Regions from separate parts of the Homo sapiens genome. Here region 2 is linked to region 1. Evidence: fine-mapped expression QTL. A gene starts in region 1. The other region holds a variant in brackets. All regions are shown on one strand. Distances are between the middles of the regions. Region 1 holds the start of IFI30 (IFI30 lysosomal thiol reductase). Region 2 holds the start of MPV17L2 (MPV17 mitochondrial inner membrane protein like 2).

The links.
Region 2: its variant is fine-mapped to the expression of IFI30 in whole blood (TOPMed, PIP above 0.99).

The regions. Positions count from the first base shown.
Region 1 is chr19:18,169,577-18,180,932 of GRCh38, reverse strand. IFI30 (IFI30 lysosomal thiol reductase) reads right to left here and starts at 7,120. Exons shown (of 7, transcript NM_006332.5): 1 at 6,960-7,120; 2 at 5,711-5,893; 3 at 5,548-5,622; 4 at 5,236-5,328; 5 at 3,641-3,793; 6 at 3,169-3,222; 7 at 2,816-3,084. The coding sequence starts at 7,091. The coding sequence ends at 3,022. PIK3R2 (phosphoinositide-3-kinase regulatory subunit 2) reads right to left here. Exons shown (of 16, transcript NM_005027.4): 16 at 10,401-11,356. RefSeq lists enhancers at 5,893-6,558, 6,686-6,755, 9,803-10,022 and a silencer at 7,066-7,375.
Region 2 is chr19:18,188,447-18,200,152 of GRCh38, reverse strand. MPV17L2 (MPV17 mitochondrial inner membrane protein like 2) reads right to left here and starts at 6,935. Exons shown (of 5, transcript NM_032683.3): 1 at 6,685-6,935; 2 at 6,119-6,289; 3 at 5,300-5,376; 4 at 5,067-5,195; 5 at 3,205-4,154. The coding sequence starts at 6,871. The coding sequence ends at 4,098. It overlaps RAB3A (RAB3A, member RAS oncogene family), which reads left to right. Exons shown (of 5, transcript NM_002866.5): 4 at 1,304-1,428; 5 at 2,493-3,369. The coding sequence ends at 2,683. RefSeq lists an enhancer at 6,791-6,840 and a silencer at 7,231-7,410. The variant C/A (reference allele first, on the strand shown) is at 3,492.

The sequences.
Region 1 (11,356 bases):
TCATACTTGTAATCCCAGCACTTTGGGAGGCCGAGGTAGGCAGATCACTTGAGGTCGGGAGTTGGAGACGATCCTGGCCAACATGGTGAAACCCCGTCTCTACTAAAAATACAAAATTGCTGGGCGCGGTGGCTCACGCCTGTAATCCCAGCACTTTGGGAGGCCGAGGCGGGCGGATCACCTGAGGTCAGGAGTTCGAGACCAGCCTCGACTTGGAGAAACCCCGTCTCTACTAAAAATACAACAAATTAGCCGGGCATGATGGTGCATGCCTGTAATCCCAGCTACTCGGGAGGCTGAGGCAGGAGAATTGCTTGAACCTGGGAGGCGGAGGTTGCAGTGAGCCGAGATCATGCCATTGCACTCCAGCCTGGTCAACAAGAGCAAAACTCCGTCTCAAAAAAAAAAAAAAAAATACAAAATTAGCTGGGTGTGGTGGCGCATGCCTGTAATTCCAGCTACTTGGGAGGCTGAGGCAAGAGAATCGCTCGAACTCCAGAGGTGGAGGTTGTGGTGAGCCAAGACCACGATCATGCCATTGCACTCCAGCCCGGGTAACAAGAGCGAAACTCCGTCTCAAAAAATAAATAAATAAATAAAATAAAATGAGATACAAGTGTGTAACCAAGCTAACCTATTCTCAGGACAAAGATACTGATTCGACAATATCTGGCATAGTGTGCTTATATTTATTCCTTTCTATTTGTTCTAATCTGTCTTTTTCTACCCCTTCTGTAGATGTGTTACTTCAGAACTTCTACCCTGAATTTCTCTCCACCACCAATTCAGCCAGGGAATGAGGAAGTTCAGGACGTGCCACCTCAAAACATGCCACCTTTGCTACTTGATGATTTGTATTTATTTATTTATTTATTTTGAGATGGGGTCTCTCTCTGTTGCCCAGGCTGGAGAGCAGTGGCGTGATCTCGGCTCACTGCAACCCCTGCCTCCCGGGTTCAAGCCATTCTCCCATCTCAGCCTCTGGAGTAGCTGGGATTACAGGCGTGCACCACCACGCATGGCTAACTTTTGTATTTTTTAAATTTTTTTTTTTGAGACAGAGTCTTGCTCTGTCGCCCAGGCTGGAGTACAGTGGCATGATCTTGGCTCACTGCAAGCTCCGCCTCCCAGGTTCACGCCATTTTCCTGCCTCAGCCTCCCGAGTAGCTGGGACTACAGGTGCCTGCCACCACGCCCAGCTAGTTTTTTGTATTTTTAGTAGAGACGGGGTTTCACCGTGTTAGCCAGGATGGACTTGATCTCCTGACCTTGTGATCCACCCGCCTCGGCCTCCCAAAGTGCTGAGATTACAGGCGTGAGCCACCGCGCCTGACCAACTTTTGTATTTTTTAGTAGAGACAGGGTTTTGCCATGTTTGCCAGGCTGGTCTCAAACTTCTGACCTTAGGTGATCTGCCTGCCTGGGCCTCCCAAAGTGCTGGGATTACAGGTGTGAGACACCGCATCCAGCCTAATTTTTGTATTTTTAGTAGAGACAGGGTTTCGCCATGTTGGCCAGGCTGGTCTTGAACTCCTGACCTCAAGTGATCCACCCACCTCAGCCTCCCAAAGTGCTGTGATTACAGGTTTGAGCCACCGCGCACAGCCGGGGTATTCTTTTTCACTTTTCCTGTTCTACTCTTTGGAATCAAGTTACTCAATCTAGTTCACTGTCAAGGTGGTTGTAGGGCCCGGCACGCTGGCTCACGTCTATAATCGCAGCACTTCAGGATCCTCAAGAAGGATCGCTTGAGCCCACGAGTTTGAGACCAGCCTGGGCAACACAGCTAGACTCCATCTCAAAATAAAGAGAAACAAAGATATTTGTAGGGAGTGGAATTAAGCCTCACTTCCTCGAAGGAAGAATATATACATCTATGATTTGACCAGTCCATCAGTAGGAAAAAATACAACACTGAACATGTTCTTTCCCTTCTTTTTCTTTTAAAAGGCAGAGTCTTGGCTGGGTGTGGTGGCTTTCGCCTGTAATCCCAGCACTTTGGGAGGCCGAGACAGATGGATCATGAGGTCAGGAGTTCGAGACTAGCCTGACCAACATGGAAGAACCCTGTCTCTACTAAAAACACAAAATTAGCTGGGCGTGGTGGCATGTGTCTGTAATCCCAGCTACTCAGGAGGCTGAGGCAGGAGAATCGCTTGAACTGAAGAGGCAGAGGTTGTGGTGAACCGAGATCACGCGTTTCCCTTCAGCCTGGGCAACAAGAGCGAAACTCCGTCTCAAAAAAAAAAAAAAAAAAAAAAAAAAAAAGAGGCAGAGTCTTGCTCTCTGGCCCAGGCTGCAGTGCAGTGGTGTAATTATGGCTCACTGCAGCCTTGACCTCCTGTGCTCAAGTGATCCTCCTGCCTCAGCCTCCCGAGTACCACAGTTGCTCGCTGCCATGTCCTGCTAATTCTTTTTATTTTCATGTTTTGTAAAGACAGGGTCTTGCTTTCATGCCAAAGCTGGTGTCAAACTCCTGTCCTCAAGCAATCCTCCTACCTTGACCTCCCAAAGTGCAGGAATTATAGACGTGAGCCACCTCACCCGGCCACAACCAGTCACTTTTTTAAAATTTTGAGATGGAATTTTGCTCTTGTCGCCCAGGCTGGAGCACAGTGGCGCGATTTCGGCTCACTGCAACCTCTGCCTGCCGGGTTCAAGCAATTCTCCTGCCTCAGCCTCCCAAGTAGCTGGGATTACAGGCGCCCGCCACCGCGCCTGGCTAATTTTTGTATTTTTAGTAGAGAGCGGGTTTTGCCAGGCCTGGGGAAGGGGGAATGGCTGACTTATCAAATTAATTACACCATCCAGAAGGGCTTATTAAACTAGTTTTACTTTAGCACCATTCTTAGTGGAGCAGGATTCTTGATCATGGGGTGGAATTTTGTGTATCTGGGCTTCATGGGATGCATAAAATTTTCCAGTTGGTAAGTAGCAGGTGCCGAGGGTCTGGATCAGAAAAAAAGGCAGGCAGCCGGGTTCCCACTCGCCTTCCATGAGCTCTCCGCAGCTCACCGGCCATCACTTGAAGCAAACACTCCTGAGGGAGCTGGTTGAGGAAGGGCAGACATCCGGCTTCTTGCCCTGGAGGTGAAGGCCATGAGTTGGGGTCCTGGAAGGAGACCCTACCCCCACCACCTGAATCCCACTGCTCCCCTCCCAGCTTACCTGGTACAACTGGCAGACAAGGGTAAGGAGCTGGGTCTGATCTTCCAAGGGTTTCTGCACAAAGCAAGACAGGGGTCGCATATTCCCAGCAGCTACCCCAACCCATGCACCCTGGTTCCAGCCCAGAAAGGGCTGCACATATTCCCAAGTCTGGCCCCCGCCTCCCGCCTCGCAAATCAGTGGCACATCTTTCCCAATGGGGGTGGCTAGGGATGTTTAATACTTCGAATTAATACATACTTTTTTTGCCTGATGGACTCCTACTCACCTTTCAAAACCCCAGCATCAATGCCCTCTTTCCCTATGCAAAGCTATCAAGTTTTGCTCTTGTTGCCCAGGCTGGAGTGCAGTGGCATGATCTCAGCTCACTGCAACCTCCGCCTGGGTTCCTTTATCTCTGGTCCCTCTGTCTTGTCCATCCCTGACTCCATGGGACTATGAGTGTCAAGCTGAGGGCTAAAAAGATTCTTACCCCATTGACGGTGACCCAGGGCACATACTCGTGTGGTGGCTGGAGAGCATCTGTCCGCTGGGCGTTGGCGTGCATGAGCTGCATGCCGCGGTCCCCCATTGCACACTCCATGATAGTGTCTGGCGACAGCCCTGGGGCGTAGAGCTGCAGGCACTGGGTGGGTGGGGAGCAGGGGGTTGCCTCAGCTTCCTCCCCGTTATCTCAACGGTCCCGCCCACCAGCCCTGAGCCAAGCCTGTTTCGTCACTGAGAAGAGGGTACAGTTGGCTTCACAGTGATGCGACAAAGCCCACAAACAGCAGGTGCTCAATACATGCTTGAGTGGAGGCCCCTAAGGCAGGGCTTGGGCTGCTCCTGCCTCCTAGCTCCCTTGGTTTCATCCCTAAGACCAGACCCACTGCCTCTGACCCCCATAGTATCTCACTTTACTCAGGACCTCCACACAGGCTGATCCCTCTGCCAGGAACACCCTTCATCCTCCTTCCACAGTGTCTCCTCAGTGCCCTCTCCTTGCCACTCTCTCAGCCCTGATCTAACCCTGCAGGACTAGGGTGTCACTAGGTGAGGCCTCTTGGGTGACCCGGATGTTTGATGAATGAATAAATGATTGGAGCCAATGAGTCACTTCTCTGGGAGTCATTCTTCACAATCCCCCGGGGAAGTAGGTGGGGTCTGTCCTATCATCTCCACATCCCATCATCTGTGTCTCTGCACATTCCTGCTCATCCTTCCATGCCCAGCTCAGAAATGCCTCCTCCAGTAAGTCCTCTGTGATCACTCATGCTCCTAAGAGACCTGCATTCATTCCCCTGATTCAGAGATGGAGGCTTCAAGAGGGGAGGCTGGGGCCGGGCGTGGTGGCTTACACCTGTAATCCTTTGGGAGGCTGGGACAGGCGGATAACTTGAGGTCAGGAGTTTGAGACCAGCCTGGCCAACATGGTGAACACTGTCTCTACTAAAAATACAAAAATTAGCCGGGCATGGTGGTGCACACCTGTAGTCCCAGCTACTGGGGAAGCTGAGGCAGGAGGATCACTTAAACTGAGGAGACAGTGGTTGCAGTCAGCCAAGATTGCACCACTGCACTCCAGCCTGGGCGACAGAGCAAAACCCTGTCTCAAAAAAAAAAAAAAAAAAAAAAAAAAAAAAAGGGCTGGGTGCGGTGGCTCACGCCTGTAATCCCAGCACTTTGGGAGGCCAAGGCAGGCGGATCACAAGGTCAGGAGTTCAAGACAAGCCTGACCAACATGGTGAAACCCTGTCTCTACTAAAAACACAAAAATTAGCTGGGCATGGTGGCACACAACTGTAATCCCAGCTACTCAGGAGGCTGAGGCTGGAGAATCACTTGAACCCTGGAGGTGGAGGTTGCAGTGAGCTGGGATTGCGCCACTGCATTCCAGCCTGGGCGACAGAGCGAGACTCTGTCTCAAGAAAAAATAAAAAAATAAATAAAATAAAGAAGGGTAGTTGTTTTCCTGGGCTGCACAGACAGCAGTGGTCAGGGCTAGGACTTGAATTTGGGTCTGCCTGGATGCAGGGAAGGTTACCACCCATGTCCCCCTCCTTGGGTGGAGTGAGGGGCGTCACTCACTAGTGGCAGACTTCTCTCCATGTCCTCAAACTCTTCCATGCAGACAATGGTCAGGAAGGCTAGCTCCATGTCAAGTTCATCCAACACGCAGGCCTGGGGTTTGGAGAGGGGGCAGGAGAGGGCATGAAGAGGGCCTAGGGTACCCTGACACCCTCTCGTAATAATCACCAGTACCCACCCAGGAGATAGGGAATAAAGATGTGATTAAATGGGAGCACACGAGGCAGAAGACAGAGCTGGCATCCTCGTATTTGCCTCCTGTACGTGGGACAGTTTTCCCCCACCCCAGTGTGGGGCCCTGGGGCCGCTCACCTCCACCTTGTTGAATTTGCACTCCTCTTCTCCATGCTGGCACTTGAACTCCCACCTGCCACTGACATTTTGTTCCTGCAAGGCAGCAGGGTGAGAGCCTGCTGGTAGGCTGGGTCCCCTGCTCCCCTGCCCACGTGCCTCAGTTTCCCCAGCGCCCACACACCTGTGCGTTTCCGTAGGGCACCAGCGTGACATTGAGGATCTCCATGACCAACAGCCATGTTGGGAAGAGCTCCCGGATCAGGAAGGCTCGGCAGCCACCGCACAGTGCTTCATAGTAGAGGGTCACATTGACAAGCGGTGCATTGGACTTCTTCAGGGGCCCCCGCAGGTATAGATTGCCTGTCTGTGGATTAGGAAGGCGTGGGAGGCAGGTGTAGCCCTGGGCAGTTCCCCACTTCTCTCAACCCCACTTGGTAGTCTTGTAGAAAGGGGGCTGTGATACGCAATTCATCTTGCACGCCTTCCAGAACTTGCCAGGTGGAATCTTGACTTTGAGACTTTTTTTTTTTTTTTTGAGATGGAGTCTCACTGTCGCTAGGCTGGTGTGCTGCGGCACGATCTCGGCTCACTGCAACACCCGACTCCCTGGTTCAAGCAATTGTCCTGCCTCAGCCTCCTGAGTAGCTGGGATTATAGGCACATGCCACCACACCCAGCTAATTTTTGTATTTTTAGTAGAGACAGGGTTTCTCCATGTAGGCCAGAATGGTCTCGAACTCCTGACCTCGTGATCTGCCTGCCTCAGACTTCCAAAGTGTTGGGATTACAGGCATGAGCCACCGCCTCCGGCCTTGGCCCATGCTCATTTCTTGTCACTTCACCTGGAGACCTTGCCTCTGAGCTGAGCAAGGGATCCACGTGAACCCTTTCCAAGTCCGACTGAATAGAGGCGGCACCTAATAGGTGCTGACTTCCGGCTTCAGCTGAGGGGTGGCGGGTGGCCCATGTCGCTGGAGCGGTGAGCAAGTCGCTCAGCCTCTAGGGCATCTGCCTAATAGGTCCCAAAGACACGCGAGCCCTGCCCTGGCTGGAATGAATGCATCAAGGGTAGCAGCAAGAATGCATGCCGGCGGCCCTTGGCCAGCTGCTGAACTTGTGCCCTGGGCCACAAAAGGAGACCCCAGCTCCTGCCCCAAAAGTACACAGTAGGCGCTCATTGAACCCTTGGGCGGGACTAGGCGGGTGGAGGCAGCTGCGCCTCTCAGATGCGGGATGCGAAAGCGAAACGGCACGGAGGGAGTGTGGCCGCAGCGCCGGGAACTGAACAGGGTTTTTCCAGGAACCCGGCAGGGACAGCGTCCCCTCGGGGCCCTGGTCTTCCCCTGTGAAGTCTGGGGAGAAAGAAGGAGCCGCGTGCCCCGACAGGGCGCCTGTTCCCTCCAGCCTGCCCGCCCTGTCGCCGTCCCTACCTTGTAGTTAACTGGTGGCCCATTCCCAAAGAAGTCTAACGCTTGCAGAGGGGACGCCTGCACCGCCGCCGTGGGGACGTCCAGCAGCAGCAGCAGCGGTGGCAGGAACAGCAGAAGTGGCGACAGGGTCATCGCAGCAGGGGCAAAGGTGTGGCGACTGCAGCGGCTGCCTGGGAAATAAGCGCCTTTAACCAGGCGGCGGTCCCGCCCCTAACCCGGGCCCGCCTCCCGATGCCCACGCCCCTCGGGTCCCGGGCCAGCGTCTCTCCCTCCTCCACTCCTTCCTCTGAGTGTCCCACCCCCACCCCTGCCAGGTGCTGGGTCCCCAGTCACGAGGCCATTGGGCCCCTTGGCAATCAGCCCTGCCCAGGCACGTGAGCCCTGGCGCAAGACTACCTTTAGGGGAGGTGAGGTGGGGCCTTTGAGACAGACACAGGCTGAGAGGAATGGTGGTGTCTCCACGCACCCCTAGACCTTCTAGGGGCGGCTAGGGGACTTGAGGCCCGAGACCCACTCTCAGAGTGGGCCTGTGACCTAACAGGGGTGACGTCGGATGGAGGCTGGGGATGGGATGGAGGCCGGGGTTTTGGGGGAGTAACTGAAATATTCAGGCCCCCGAGAGTGGGCAAGGCCTGTGTGGCCAGGTCTCCTCCCTCCAGTCTCGCCCGTGACCTCCCTCACACCCAACCCCCACATCCTGCCCCTCAACCCTTCCCCCCTCAAACTCCTGACCCCGACGCTCCAGACCCCTCACCGTGGTCCCGTGGGACTGACTCAGGCTTGACCACAGCCACGCCGGAAAGCAGAAGCTGGCGCAGGGAGTGGCGTGTCATTTCTCTAGGGTACCCACCCAGCCCCACTTCTGGCTTGGGGTGAAGAGAACTGGCCTTCCTTCTTTTCATCGTTCAAGGCTTGTGGGGGGTGGGGGGCAACCTGGCCTTCAAGGGACGCCCATGGGGGAGAGAGGCAGCCTGTGCTGTCTGGGATAGGGGTGGGGTGGCTTGGAGTCCACCTGGCTTTGGATTTGAGTGACAGAGCCTCAGCTTTCCCTTCTGTGTAATGGGGAGAAGGATAAGGTTTGGGGAACAAGAGTCACCATGGAGGGCTCAGAGGCAGGTGGGGGAGAGTTGTCCCAGGCTGGGGCTTCTGGATGGCATGGTCAGGCCTTGGTGCCTACACAGGACAGTGGCCCCAACAGTGAAGGCAGAGAGAATAGCCTGGAAAAAAGGCCCAGATGGAGGCTGGAGTGTTGGGGGAATAACTGAGACATTCCAACCCTGCCAGGCCTTACATTCAGGGCAAGACACATCGGATCCTAGGGAAGAAAATGTCCCACACCCAGCTGGAAGATATACCTGAGTCCCCAGCTGTGCCCCCCTCTAGTTGTGGGGAAGACCCTGGCCACACACACAGTAGCTGGTTTGGGAGCCGGAGCTTCTCTGAAGTCCCAGTGGCTGGATGGTCCCCGAGCCCATCCCTCAGACGACCAAACCGTTGGCAAAGGCTCCCCAAGACTCACCACCCCAACTTTGGTGCTTACCCTATGCCGGGTGGGATTGAAGAAATAACCATAAATATAATTGCTACAATTTTTCCAGTAGTTACCAGGCACCAGCCCTATTGGAAGAAATCATAAATGTAACCCTACAATGTATTGCTCTCTGGCTTGGTGCCAGGCATAGAGTGGGCCTACAACCCATTTTATCATTGAACCCTCAGAAGCATCCAGTTGGGGCTGGGGGTAGGTGCTACTGACTCCAGCTGGTAACAAATAAATGGCTGATCAGAGAGGGAAGGCTATTTTGCCAAGGACACACAGCCAGTGGTTGAGTGTTTTTAGAGACCACACGGGATATTCTCTTCCACCCCCAGCTCAGCATAGCTGGGATCATAAAGATGGCAACCTTTCTCCTGTGAGCACCTATGCAGTGAGAGGCACAATCTGGGCTGGAGTTATTTATGGGTTATCTCCAGACAGGACACATGGCAGGGACAGTGCCTGGCAAGGCTAGGGGGCTCTGAGGCTAAGGGAGGCAGGTCCTGTCCCAAGGTCCCAGCAGTAGACTGGGTCAGAGTGGAGGTTTCTTTCTGCACTTGCCCCAGGTTCAGCCTTGTTGGGCCTTGAGAGGTGGCTGTACAAAACAGACAAGGACAGTGAGGCCCCAGGGTTGGGGAGGGCTGAAGGGACAATGACGTCGCAGTGGGGGTGTGGATTCTGGGTGTGATGGGGAGGGTGGTAAACAGGAGTCCAAGTCAAAGACGCCATGAGGCCACGCGTGGTGGCTTACGCGACTCAGGGAGGCTGAGGTGGGAGGATCACTAGAGGCCAGGAGTTTGAGACCCACCTGGAAAAGGGCAAGACCCTTTTTTTTTTTTTTTTTCTTGAGACAGAGTCTCACTCTGTCACCCAGGCTGGAGAACAGTGGCACGATCTTGGCTTGGTGCAGCGTTGACCTCCCAGGTTCATCTGATCTTCCTATCTCAGCCTCCCAAGTAGCTGGGATTACAGGCATGCGCCACCATGTCTGGCTAATTTTTTTTTGTATTTTTAGTGGAGACCAGGTTTTACCATGTTGGCCAGGCTGGTCTCAAACTCCTGACCTCAAGTGATCTGCCTGCCTTGGCTTCCCCAAGTGCTGGAATTACAGGTGTGAGCCACTGCACTCGGCAAGATCTTGTTTCTAAAAAAATTTAAAAATAATTAGCTGGACATGGTGACACACACCCGTAATCCAGTGACTCTAAAGGCTGAGATGAGAGGACTGCTTGAGGCTGGGAACCAGGAGCTTGAGGCTGTGAGCCGCGAGCTGTGTTCGCACAACTGCACTCCAGCCTGGGTGACAGAGTGAGAGACCTTGACTCTTTAAAAAGAAACACAAAAAACCCCACAGGGCTTTTGCTCAGCGTCTCCTGGGACCCGGCGGGCTGTGCATGGGAGTGGGTGAGGAGAGGTCAGAGAAGAGCCTCCAATGCTGGCTGGAGGTGCCGACGACTTGAGAACATCAAAGACACGGGAGACTCCTCCCTGTGGCATGGGAGGGTTTTGACTTTTGACGCCACTTGGCAATGAATGAGGAAGCTGTGGATCAGGGAGGGGATACAACTTTCCCAAGGACACAGCTGATGGTTGCGACAGGATTCAAATTTGGGGGCGGTGGGCGGGGGAAGCAGCTTGGAAGCACTTGAGGGGCTGGATGGGGTCTGGGGTCCCCTGAGCAGTCGGGAGCTCAGGATTCGAATCTCTCTCCTGTATGACCTTGGGCACTGCCTCAACCTCTCCAGGCTTGAGCAGCTAAACTGGGGGAGGGAGGGGTTGTCGGGTCTCAGAGGGGCTTGGAGTTAAACCCACGGGTCCGACCTGCTGTGACCCCCGTAGACACCAGGGTCCCCGACACGCAGAGGTGGTACTGAAGCCCAGTCACTGACAACAGAATCACCCACGACGTTTGATGTTTTATATCATATCAATAACAACGTACCGTACAAAACCTGCCTCCCAGCTCGTGGGGCAGGCAGTGTGGTGGCCAAGGGCAGCGTAGAAAACCAGGGCTCTTGTCCCAAAAGAGGAGAGGAAAGAGGGTTTTGCAGTCAAGGAAAAACAGAATCAAAACCCAACATGATCGAAGAGAAGCCCTGAATCTGCATCAGAGGGAGGGGCCGTGGGCAGTGTCGCAACTTGGCCACTGCGGCGGCACCAGTACGGGGAGCTGTGATTCCTAGGAGGGGTTGGGGCCAGCTCACAAGTTTATTTATTTATTTTTTTGAGACGGAGGAGTCTCCCTCTGTTACCCAGGCTGGAGTGCAGTGGCACGATCTCTGCTCACTGCAACCTCCATCTCCTGGGTTCAAGAGATTCTCACGCCTCAGCCTCCCAAGTAGCTGGGATTACAGGCGGCCGCCACCACGCCCGGCTAATTTTTGTATTTTAGTAGATGCGGGGTTTTGCCATTTTGGCCAGGCTGGCCTCCAACTCCCGACCTCAAAAGATCCGCCCGTCTTGGCCTCCCAAAGTGCTGGGATTACAGGCATGAGCCACCGTGCCTGGCCTGCGAGTTTAATTATTTTTTCGGGGGTGGGTGAACTTCTCGCAGCGGCCCCCTTGTGGGGGTAACCCGGTGGCGGGTTTCACTTCGGGGTTTGGAGGGGAAGTTGGAGTCTGTGGGGCGGGTCCCGCCCGGCCCCGAATGTCACGGCCGAGGTTCTCGGAAGCAGCAGAGTGAAGTTCCTTCCTGCCCTGACCCCAGGTCTATGGCTTAAAAATCAGGGTGCCCAGGCTGGGGCCGCGCAGCCCAGGGGCCCTCTGTAAACATGGCAGGTGCAGCCAGAAGGGGCTTCCGGGACCCCGGGGGACCTGCGGTGGGCAGGGCAGAGGGTCAGGGTGACCAGAGCCATGGAGA
Region 2 (11,706 bases), 19 kb before region 1:
TACCACCACACCTGGCTAATTTTTTTGTATTTTTAGTTGAGATGGGGTTTCCTCATGTTGCCCAGGCTGGTCTTGAACTCCTTGGCTCAAGTGATCTGCCCACCTTGGCCTCCCAAAGTGCTGGGATTACAGGCGTGAGCCATCGCTTCTGGCCTTCCACACTCATTCTGGGGCCATTGTCTCTGAGCCAAACTTTCTTCAAAAAATAATAAATAAAACGTAGGGGTCAGAGAAGGATTTCAGATGGAAAAGTAAAACTATAACCATATAGAAACAAATATCTGCAAGTGTAGGGTGGAGAATATAGAGACTATAAGGAGAGTTGGCATGGCCGGGCACGGTGGCTCACACCTATAATCCCAGCACTTTGGGAGGCTGAGGCAGGTGGATCACCTGAGGTCGGGAGTTCGAGACCAGCCTGACCAAGATGGAGAAACCCCATCTCTACTAAGAATGCAAAAATTAGCCAGACGTGGTGGCGCACACCTGTAATCCCAGCTACTTGGGAGCCTGAGGCAGGAGAATCGCTCGAACCCGGGAGGTGGAGGTTGCAGTGAGCCAAGATTGCCATTGCACTCCAGCCTGGGCAACAAGAGCAAAACTCTGTCTCAAAAAAAAAAGGAGAGTTGGCATAGGTTAGAGATTGTAAACATTTCAATTTTCTGCTCAGAAGTAATAACTTTAAAAAAAAATTTCTGGGTTGGGCACAGTGGCTCATGCCTATAATCCCAGCACCTTGGGAGGCCGAGGTGGGTAGATCTTGAGCTCAGGAGTTCGAGTCCATCGTGGCCAACATAGTGAAACCCTGTCTCTACTAAAAGCACAAAAAATTACCAGGCATGGTGGCTCATGCCTATAGTCCCAGCTACTTAGGAGGCTGAGGCAGGAGAATCACTTCAACCTGGGAGGCGGAGATTGCAGTGAGCCTAGATCGCGCCACTGCACTCCAGCCTGGGCGACAGAGCAAGACTCTATCTCAAAAAAAGAAAATTTCTGGGCTGGGTGGCTCATGCCTGTAATTCCAGTACTTTGAGAAGCGAAGGCAGGCAGATACTCCAGCCTGGGCAACAGACCCAGACTCTATCTCAAAAAAAACCCCAAAACACAGAAACAATAATGGGTCAGTCGGGGGCTGGAGTGGGGTGAAAGCGGGGCACATTGGGGGAAAGGATGGTGGGGAGGATGGAGGGGCAAGCTTCTGGGTCTTTCTTCCTCGGACAAGGACACAGGCTCCACATCAGCCCGTCAGGGTGGAGCTGGGATCCTCCAAGCCCTGACCTGCCCCCATTGGTGCCTCCTATAGGTCCACCCAGATCAAGACCTACTCATGGGACAATGCCCAGGTGCTGCTGGTAGGAAACAAGTGTGACATGGAGGATGAGCGGGTGGTGTCATCAGAACGTGGCCGGCAGCTAGCTGACCACCTTGGTGAGTGCCCAGCTGGGCTGGAGACCCACAAGTCTAGAAAAAGGACACTAAGAGAGGGGAGGGCACACACCCAAGGTCTTACAGCTAAAGCCAGGTAATTCACACTTTCTGCAAACTAGCCTTCATCCAGGAGCCATTTGAGTTGGATCCTGAGGGATGTGTAGGAGTTTGCCATGCAGAAAGTTTAAGGATTTATTCTGACACTCACCGTCCAACGCTTTGTTGGGTGTTGCTGGGCTCAAGAGGCATCTAGGGGTGCCTCGAGGGACCCCTGAGGTAGAGGGAGGGACCTGGATGGGAGGAGCACATGAGAGGAGCCAGGCTTCCTGGAGTGGTGGGTAGTGAAGAAGGGTCTTTCAGGCAGAGGAAATAGCTTGGGCAAAGGCTTGCAGTGAGAAAGGTCCTGTGTGTTTTGGTAATAATTTCACAAGACTGGAACATGAGGGTCAGCTGGAGGAAATGTGGCCGATCACAGAGGGCCTCAACCATGTGCTGAGAGGCTGGGACTCTTTGGAGGGCAATAGGGAGTCACAGAGGGTGTGTGAGCAGGGGGAGGTCACAGCTGGATTTGAGTGTCAGAGCCTTCCAGGGCCAGTGCACGGGGCTGGGCTGGACGCTGCAGGGCATGTCTTGCCAGGTCCCTAAGGACAACGAGACACAATTTTAGGAAGGAAGGGCAGGAGGCCAGGTGCGCTGGCTCACACCTATAATCCCAGCAATTTGAGAGGTGGGGGTGGAGGATCACTTGAGCCCAGGAGGTCGAGACTGCAGTGAGCTATGATCACGCCACCATACTCCATCCTGGGCAGCAGAGCAAGGCCCTGTCTCAAAAAAAAAAAAAAAAAAAAAAAGCAGGAAATGCAAAGCTGACCCAGTTCCATGTTGCTTCTCTGTGGGATTTGTCAGTACCTTCAATAAGTTTCTTCTCTGTGGGATTTGTCAGTACCTTCAATAAGTTGCTTGGCACTGGGAATCTCCAGGTGTTCCCTTTCCTCAGAGAAGCATCTCTGGGAGTTGGCATAGGGCGTGGCCAGGGTCCTCATCCCTGCCTTCTCTGACCACAGGGTTCGAGTTCTTTGAGGCAAGCGCCAAGGACAACATTAACGTCAAGCAGACCTTTGAGCGCCTGGTGGATGTCATCTGCGAGAAGATGTCCGAGTCGTTGGACACGGCGGACCCTGCGGTCACAGGCGCCAAGCAGGGCCCACAGCTCAGTGACCAGCAGGTGCCACCGCACCAGGACTGCGCCTGCTGAGAGCCATCCCACTCCCTTTCCCCTCTTCCCTGTCTTCCCCACCTTCCCCCAACTACCCGGGCCTGACCCGGCCCCTACCAGCCACGGGCACAAGACCCCTGCTCCTGACTTAGCCCGTCACCCTTATTTATTATTGTAGCTATTTATTTATTTATTGAAGATGTCCCCCAGGGGCCCAGGCTCCCCTGCCCGCCCCAAGCCCTGCCCCTCCTGTACATATAGCCCTTTCCCCACTCAGCTGTGGTGTCTCGTGGCCCCGTGAACTCACCGCTCACCCTCCTGAACCCCCCCCCCCCGCCTTTTTTTAAAATTCACCCCCATCCACAGTTGTCAGTTGTGAAGAGGGGCCAGATGACACCCTAAAGCAGGCTGATCGGGCAATGGGAGGTGGCCAGGCCTGCCAGCCCCTCGGCTCTGCCGCGGTGGGCCGAGGCCGCTGTTGGGGGTTTCCCTGTGTGGACCATGGGGATCAGAGTCTGGCCTGCCAGGCTCCTCTCCCCGTTTTCTCTTTTGGTGGGGGGGTGTGCTGTGGGTATTCACCACCCTGGGACCCCCCCCCCCCCCGCCCACCAGACCTGTTCTGACCTCATGAGTGTCAAACGTGCCCCCCAGTTCCTTAGGAGATGTCATGACAACACTACACGCACCCAATAAAGCGAATGGACCATCCATGTGTGTCCCTGTGAGCACCGGGTCCTGCCCACCCTGGTTTTGATCATCCACAGCATTTTCTTTTGTTATTTTTATTTTTCAATATAAATAGAGACAGGGTCTTGCTATGTTGCCCAGGCTGGTCTCGAACACCTGG[C/A]CTCGAGCAATCCTTCCACCTCAGCCTCGGGAAGGGCTGAGATTACAGGTGGGAGCCACTGCGCCCAGCCAGCAGTTTCAGTTACATTATAGAGAGAGTTTAATGGCATTTCCACAGTTCAGGACCAGGGAAAGAAACACAGAGGCTGCCTGGCCCTATGTGAAACTTTTGGGGGCCGACTCCAGGCCTGAGCCTGCTCTGAGGGGATCAGTCATGTCCCCGCCTTAGTCCCAGGACCTGAGGGAGCTCTGGATTGGTGGCTTGGCCCAGAGCCAGGTGGATGGCAGTGTTGAGGGGCTGGTGCTTGAGACTGGTTGGCAGAGTGGGCCCTGTGCTGAGGATGGGACATCTTGGTCACAGGTCGCATGAGGTTCCTGCTGAGAAGGGCTAGGGGATGATCATCCATCTTCATGGGTGTGTTCCGGTTGAGGAAACTCAGTCCCAGAAGTGAGCTTGGAAAGGGCGGCTCAGCCCAATGCTCCGGAGCTGAAGTGGTGCTGGGACGTGGCTCAAGACCCGAGCTTGCTGCAGGAGCCCATTCCCCTTCTGTCAGAGGGGGTGGTCCGCCAGGAGACAGTCTTGCATCTGGTCCAGGAAGCAGACAGTTCAGTCTGCTCGGGTGTCCAGGGCCACACAGCCTGGGGGTGTCAGAGGAACTGGGCTCTGTCCACACAAGACAAGGCATCTGGTCAGAAGCCTGGCTCATCCCTCCCTGTCCCTCTACCTGCCCTTGGGCCAGAGGTCAGCCCTGCTCAACAGACTTGGCAGGGACCGGGCTGAGGTCACATCAGACAGCAGAGAAGGGTTGGGTCTTTTTGTTTGTTTGAGACGGAGTCTCGAACTGTCGCCCAGGCTGGAGTGCAGTGGCGCGATCTCGGCTCACTGCAAGCTTCGCTGCCCGGGTTCAGGCCATTCTCCGGTCTCAGCTTCCGGAGTAGCTGAGACTACAGGCGCCCGCCACCACGCCCGGCTAATTTTTTTTTTGTATTTTTAGTAGAGACAGGGTTTCACCATGTTAGCCAGGACGGTCTCGATCTCCTGACCTCGTGATCCGCCTGCCTCGGCCTCCCAAAGTGCTGGGATTACAGGCGTGAGCCACCGCGCCCGGCATGGGTCTTTTTTTTTTGAAACGGAGTCTCGCTCTGTCACCTAGGCTGGAGTGCAGTGGCATGATCTTGGCTCACTGCAGCCTCTGCCTCCTGGGTTCAAGCAATTCTCCTGCCTCAGCCTCTCAAGTAACTGGAATTACAGGTGCGTACCAGTAATTTTTTGTATTTTTAGTAGAGAAGGGGTTTCACCATATTGCCCAGTCTGCTCTCTAACTCCAATTTCAGGCGATCCACCCGCTTCGGCCTCCCAAAGTGCTGGGATTACAGGCATGAGCCACGGCGCTCAGCCACGGCTGGGTCTTAACTGCTAGTGAGGAGCTCTCCGCCAGCCCACTGTTGGGTGTGGGTTGTCAGGAGCACAGGAGACTCCCACCCTCCAGGGTGGCTGGCTACACTGCCACTTGGAGCTCACACGTGTAGCCCCCTGGGGAGTCCCCTGGGTGCCTGGTATGCCCTCCACACTCACCCGGTACTTCAAGTAGGACAGGTACGTGTCCCAGCCCAGCGTCAGGCCGTTGATGTAGGTGACTCGAAATTGGGGGGGCACGAAGAGGAAGTTCACGAACTGCGCAGCAGGCCACACGCACCAGTCTGCCTGCGGGGAGAGGCGGGGGATGAGGGGCGGGGCCAGAGCTGGGCGGGGGCGGAGCGGCCATCAGGGGGCGGGGCCGGACATGTGCAAGGGGCGGGTGCTCCCACCTTGTAGAATTCCCAGAACTTCTCCCGCAGCTCCTGGCAGCTCTCACCCACTGTCTGACCCTCCAGGCAGCCAAGGCCTGGGAAGCAAACCAAGAAATGAGAGTGTTAGAGGCCAGGAAGTACTGTTGAGACGACAAGATGGGCTGACGATGGAGGGGGCGGGGTTGGGCCCCTGAGAGCCCACGCCGCCCACCCCGGGCAGAGGGACAGGGACTTTCAGATGGGATGGACAGAGAATTAGGGTAGCTGGTGTAGAGACAAAACAGAGCAAGTCAGTCCCAGTGAGAGAAAGAGAGGTTATAAACATATAAACACGTGCCCCAATGGAGACACCCTGAAGTTGAGGGAGTTGTGTTACTTTTCCATCACAGACCAGGAAGCCGGGCTGGGAGGTGGAGAATGAGAGACTCCTCTATTAATACCGCTGTCTTTACCGAGCCTAGGGCTGGCACGGTTGCACCCCATTAAGTCTAGCCTCAATTTCTCTTCCTTCAGGCCTCAGAGCCTTTGCATTAGCTGTTCCCTCTGCCCGCTGGTTCCCTCTTCATGTCTCAACTGAGTGTGGTCCCCTTCTTTGGGAAATGCTCTCAACCTCCCGCCCAGGGCAGCCCCAACAGATACAGTCCTCGTCCCTCCTACACTCGCCAGCGTTCACATCGGCCGAGTCCGTCCTGTCCCCGCTGTGACCTGGCTCCTAGTCCAGGGCGACCCAAACAGGGGGCAAATTGGAAATGCACCTCTGCATCCTTCTTAACACAAAGCTGGCTCCACCCCTCCCGACCTATGAGAGGCAAAGCCTAGGCTTAGGAGGCTCCTTACCCAAGAAGTACCAGACGCCCAGCAATGGAGAGGCTACCAGCTGATCCACGAGGACCTTCTTGAGGACATTTGGGAAGCCTCGGAGGCCAGACGCAGGGAATAGGCGGTCCAGCGACAAGTACCAGTAGTGCAGGAAGGGACCCATGCTGCAGCCCACCGCAAACATGCTCGCTATAAGAGTGTAAGTCAGGGGGCTGGGTCGGGCCGGCAAGTTCCTCAGTCCATTCCCTCTCTCCCTCCCTGGCTAAGGCCTGGGTAAGCCCAATGCCATCCCGGAGCCTCAGCCTCACCGGGAAAACCGGAAGAGCCCACCCGTGCATTCTTCCACTACAAGCCCCACCAGGAGGCGCGGCTCCAGAGGCTCCTGGGTAGTGGGCAGAGACCTCCGGGGGTTGGGAGGTGATGGAGACCCAGAGCTGCGGGGAGACAGACACCCGGGGAGAGGCGCGGTCAGGGCAAGGGTCCTGCGGGGGACTGAGGCCACGGGTCAGGGGTCACGGCCCGCAGTCGGGTGTCGGGATCAAAGGTCGCCCGGGGTGAAGGACTAAGCAGCGTGGCGTCCTCACCGGAGCGCCGTGGGTCGAAAACCTGGCCGGGCCGGGCGCGGATCTCCCAGGACTGGCGCACGCCATCACCGGCCGCCATGAGCGCGCCGCAGCCCAGCGTGTTAGTGACGAGCAGCGCGCGGCCCTGGAATAGAAGCTGCCCCGCGGATAACAGGCGGCGTAGCCGGCGCCAGCCACCCCGCGCCATCGCCCTCAGGAACCAAGGAACCGGCGCGCCGCTCTGCTTTCGCCGCGCCGACCAGTCGCGAGTCACTGTCGATCCCAAATTGCCCGCCCCTCCGGCTCCCCGGCCAATCGCATAAGGATCTTCAGTCCGCAGGTCCGCCCCGAGCCGCGACGCGTTCACCAATCGCAGGCAGCCTCGGGGAGCCACATTGCCCGGCCCGAAGAGTATTGACCAATAAAAGGCAGGCGTTCTATCCCAAGGTCGAGCCCCCAACGACCTCCCGAGCTTCACGGACCAATCGGAAAAAAGAATTGCGTTACGTCCCGCATGCCGATTGGTAACGTTGCACTCTTGTTTCCCCGCCCCTTTCTGTGCCAGCCTATGGGAAACCGTCGCAGCCCCGTCCTACCGACACGCCCAGGACGGCACTGGCCAGTCGCAGACCGGCGTCACGCTGGCAAATCAGTGACCGTCGTCCCGCCTCCCGCGTTAGGGTTGGTCAATCTTAGGCAGTTACAACGCCTTCTGGCCTGGTTGCCCTACGTATTTCCAGATTCTCCTGGACTTAACCAGAAGGGATGTGATCTGTGGCCAGAAACAATTATATCCTAATTATACCGTTCCCGTAGGGAACAATTATTTTTTTTCTTTTTTTGAAATGGAGTCTCGCTCTGTCACCCAGGCTGGAGTGCGGTGGCGCGATCTCGGCTCACCGCAACCTCTCCCTCCCGGGTTCAAGCGATTCTCGTGTCGCAGCCTCCCAAACAGCTGGGATTACAGGCACGGGCCACCACGCCCAACTAATTTTGTATTTTTGGTCTAGACAGGGGTTTTGCCATGTTAGCCAGGCTGGTCTCGAACTCCTGACCTCAAGAGATCCACCCGCCTTGGCCTCCCAAGGTGCTGGGATGATGATAGGCGTGAACCACCGTAACTGGCTTAAAAAATGATTTTCAATGGAAATCCCTATGCATTCTCTACTAGAGTCGCAAACTACTGCCTGTGGGCTGTTAACTGTTGAAGGTGTGCAGGTTCTTGGCATCTTGAACAAAGAATTGGACAAAGTGCACAAACAAAGCAAGGAAAGAATGAAGCTTAACAAAAGCAGAGATTTATTGAAAACGAAAGTACACTCCGCAGGGTGGGAGCCAGTGGAGCATACGGACTCAAGAGACCTGTTTAAGAATTTTCTGGGGTTTAAATGCCCTCTAGAGGTTTTCACTGGTTACTTAATGTACGTCCTATGTAAATGAAGAGGATGAAGTAAAGTTACAAAGTCATTTACTGGATGTATGCCCTCTTTAAATGGAGAAGATATTTCCTGTCATAGCTGAATTGTTTCCATTTGATTTGGCCTTATGTTCCCTGCCTCCAGACCTATTCTCCTGCCTCAGGGCCAAATCCTGTCCCTGCCTGTTTTGTGCTGCTCATGATGAGCTAAAGGTGTTTCTTACATTTTTTAAATGGTCAGTCAAGAAGGTGGGGATTGGCCAGGCGCAGTGGCTCACGCCTGTAATCCCAAACAGTTTGGGAGGCGGAGGCAGCTGGATCACCTGAGGTCAGGAATTCAAAACCAGCCTGGCCAACATGGTAAAACCCCATCTCTATTAAAAATACAGAAATTAGCCAGGGGCGTGGTGGTGGGCGCCTGTAATCCCAGCCACTCGGGAGGCTGAGGCAGGGTAATCTCTTGAACCCGAGAGGTGGAGGTTGCAGTGAACCGAGATAGCTCCAGTCTGGGCCACAGAGCGAGACTGTCTCAAAAAAAAAAAAAAAAAAAAAAAAAAAAGGCTGTGCCTAGGGCCGTGGTCACTCACGTTTGGCTCAGAATTAACCTCTTTAAATATTTTACGGAGTTTCTTTTTTTTTTTTGAGAGAGTCTCGCTCTGTGGCCCAGGCTAGAGTGCAGTGGCGCGATCTTGGCTCACTGCAAGCTCCACCTCCCGGGTTCACGCCATTTTCCCGCCTCAGCCTGGCGAGTAGCTGGGACTACAGGTTCCCGCCACCAAACCCGGCTAATTTTTTATATTTTTAGTAGAGACAGGGTTTCACCGTGTTAGCCAGGATGGTCTCGATCTCCTGACCTCATGATCCGCCCGCCTCGGCCTCCCAAAGTGCTGGGATTACAGGCGTGAGCCACCGCGCCCGGCCCATATTTTACAGAGTTTCACTCTTTTTGTCAACAAATGGCATGATTGTGTTTCAATAAAGTTTTACTTATGGACACAAATTTGCATTTCATATAATTTTCAGGTCATAGAATAAGCCAAACGTCATTGAAACACAATCATGCCATTTGTTGGCCTGTAAAAAGTAAAACTGAAATATGGCTTTTTTTTTTTTTTGAGACGGAGTCTTACTCTGTTGCCCAGGCTGGAGTGCAGTGGCACAATATCAGCTCACAGCAACATTTGCCTTCCAGGTTCAAGCGATTCTCCTGCCTCAGCCTCATGAGTAGCTGGGATTACAGGCACCCGCCGCCATGCCTAGCTATTTTTTGTAGTTTTGTAGAGACGGGGTTTCACCATGTTACTCAGGCTGGTCTTGAACCCCTGATCTCAAATCCACCTGCCTCGGCCTCCCAAAGTGCTGGGATTACAAGAGTGAGCCACCATGCCCAGCCTACAATATGGGTTTTTACAACAAAAATTTGCCCAGTCAGAGGACACCCTTCATGGTTTTCTGATTTTTTTTTTGAGATAGAGCCTTCTTCCTTCCTTCCCCCAATTTAAAACTTTTATTTAAAGAAAGGTTTTGTTTTTTTTTCCTCTTTAGTAGAGACAGGGTCTCACTATGTTGCCCAGGCTAGCCTTGAACTGTACTGAAGCAATCCGCCCACTTTTGCATCCAAAAGTGCTGGAATTACAGGCATGAGTTACTGAGAATAGATAAAATGACATGTCCCCCTGGGCAATAGGAGAACAGTGAGTTTCGTAAAGTGGGACAAATAAACAGAACAATACAAAAAAAACCTGATCAATGCCGGGCGAGGTGGCTCAGGCCTGTAATCCCAGTACTTAGGGAGGCCAAGGCGTCCGAATCATGAGGCCAAGTGATTGAGACCAATCTGGTCAACACGGTGAAACACCGTTTCTACTAAAAATACAAAAATGAGCTGGGCACGGTGGCACACGCCTGTAGTCCCAGCTACTCAAGAGGCTGAGGCAGGAGAATCGCTTGAACCCGGGAGGTGGAGGTTGCAGTGAGCCGAGATCTCACCACTGCACTCCGGCCTGGCAACAGGGCGAGACTCCGTCTCAAAAAACAAACAAACAAACAAACAAACAAACAAACAAACCACTGGGTGTGGTGGCCCCCACCTGTGATTCCAGCTACTCCGGAGGGTGAGGCAGGGGAGTCGCTTGAACCCTGGAGGCAGAGGCTGCAGTGAGCCGAGATTGCGCCACCGCACTCCAGCCTGGGTGACAGAGCCAGACTGTCTCAAAAAAAAAAAAAAAGAAAAAGAAAGTGGGAGTTGAACAATGAGAACACATGGACACAGGGAGGGGAACATCACATTCCGGGACCTGTCAGAGGGTGGGATAGGGGAGGGATAGCATTAGGAGAAATAACTTCTTTTTTTTTTTTTTTTTTTTGAGACGGAGTCTCGCTCTGTCATCCAGGCTGGAGTGCAGTGGCGCGATCTCGGCTGGCTGCAAGCTCCGCCTCCCGGGTTCACGCCATTCTCCTGCCTCAGCCTCTCCGAGTAACTGGGACTACAGGCGCCCGCCACCACGCCCGTCTAATTTTTTGTATTTTTAGTAGAGACGGGGTTTCACCTTGGTCTCGATCTCCTGACCTCGTGATCAGCCCGCCTCGGCCTCCCAAAGTGCTGGGATTACAAGCGTGAGCCACCGCACCCGGCCAGCATTAGGAGAAATACCTAATGTAGATGACCGGTTGATGGGTGCAGCAAACCACCATGGCACGTGTATACATACCTATGTAACAAACCTGCACCTTCTGCACGTTCTGCACATGGATCCCAGAACTTAAAGTATAATAATAGTAAAAAAGAATTCAATGTAGATGTATGGATTTGGTTCTGGGTTCTCCATTCTGTTCCATTTATGTATGTGTCTATTTTTGTGCTGGTACTATGCTGTTTTTGTTACTGTAGATCTATAGTATAATTGAATGTTGGGTAATGGGATTCCTCCAGTTTTGTTCTGTTTGCTCAGGATAGTTTTGGCTATTCAAGGTCTTTTGTGATTTCATATAAATTTAGGACTGTTTTTTAGAACTGTTCTTTCTGTTTTGTGTGAAGAATGTCATTGGTATTGTATTTTGATGGAAATTGCATTGAATCTGTAGGTTGCTTTGTGTAGTATGGACATTTTGACAATATGGATTTTTCCAATCCATAACTACAGAATATCTTAAAAAATAATAATAATAATAAGGCCGGTGCGGTGGCTCACGCCTGTAATCCCAGCACTTTGGGAGGCCGAGGTGGGCGGATCATGAGGTCAGGAGATCGAGACCACAGTGAAACCCCGTCTCTACTAAAAATACAAAAAATTAGACGGGTGTGGTGGCGGGCGCCCGTAGTCCCAGTTACTCAGAGAGGCTGAGGCAGGAGAATGGCGTGAACCCGGGGAGGTGGAGGTTGCAGTGAGCCAAGATCGTGCCACTTGCACTCCAGCCTGGCGACAGAGCTAGACTCTATCTCAAAAAAAAAAAAAAAAAAAAAGAAAGAAAGAAAGAAAGAAAAAGAAAAACCTGATTAACTTCAGGTTACTTTTTTTGGTAAGTGTTAAAGCAGAGGGGACTTCCTTATCGGGCTAATTCAGGTAGACTAAAATCTTTTTTTTTTGAGACAGAGTCTCGCTCTGTCGCCCAGGCTGGAGTGCAGT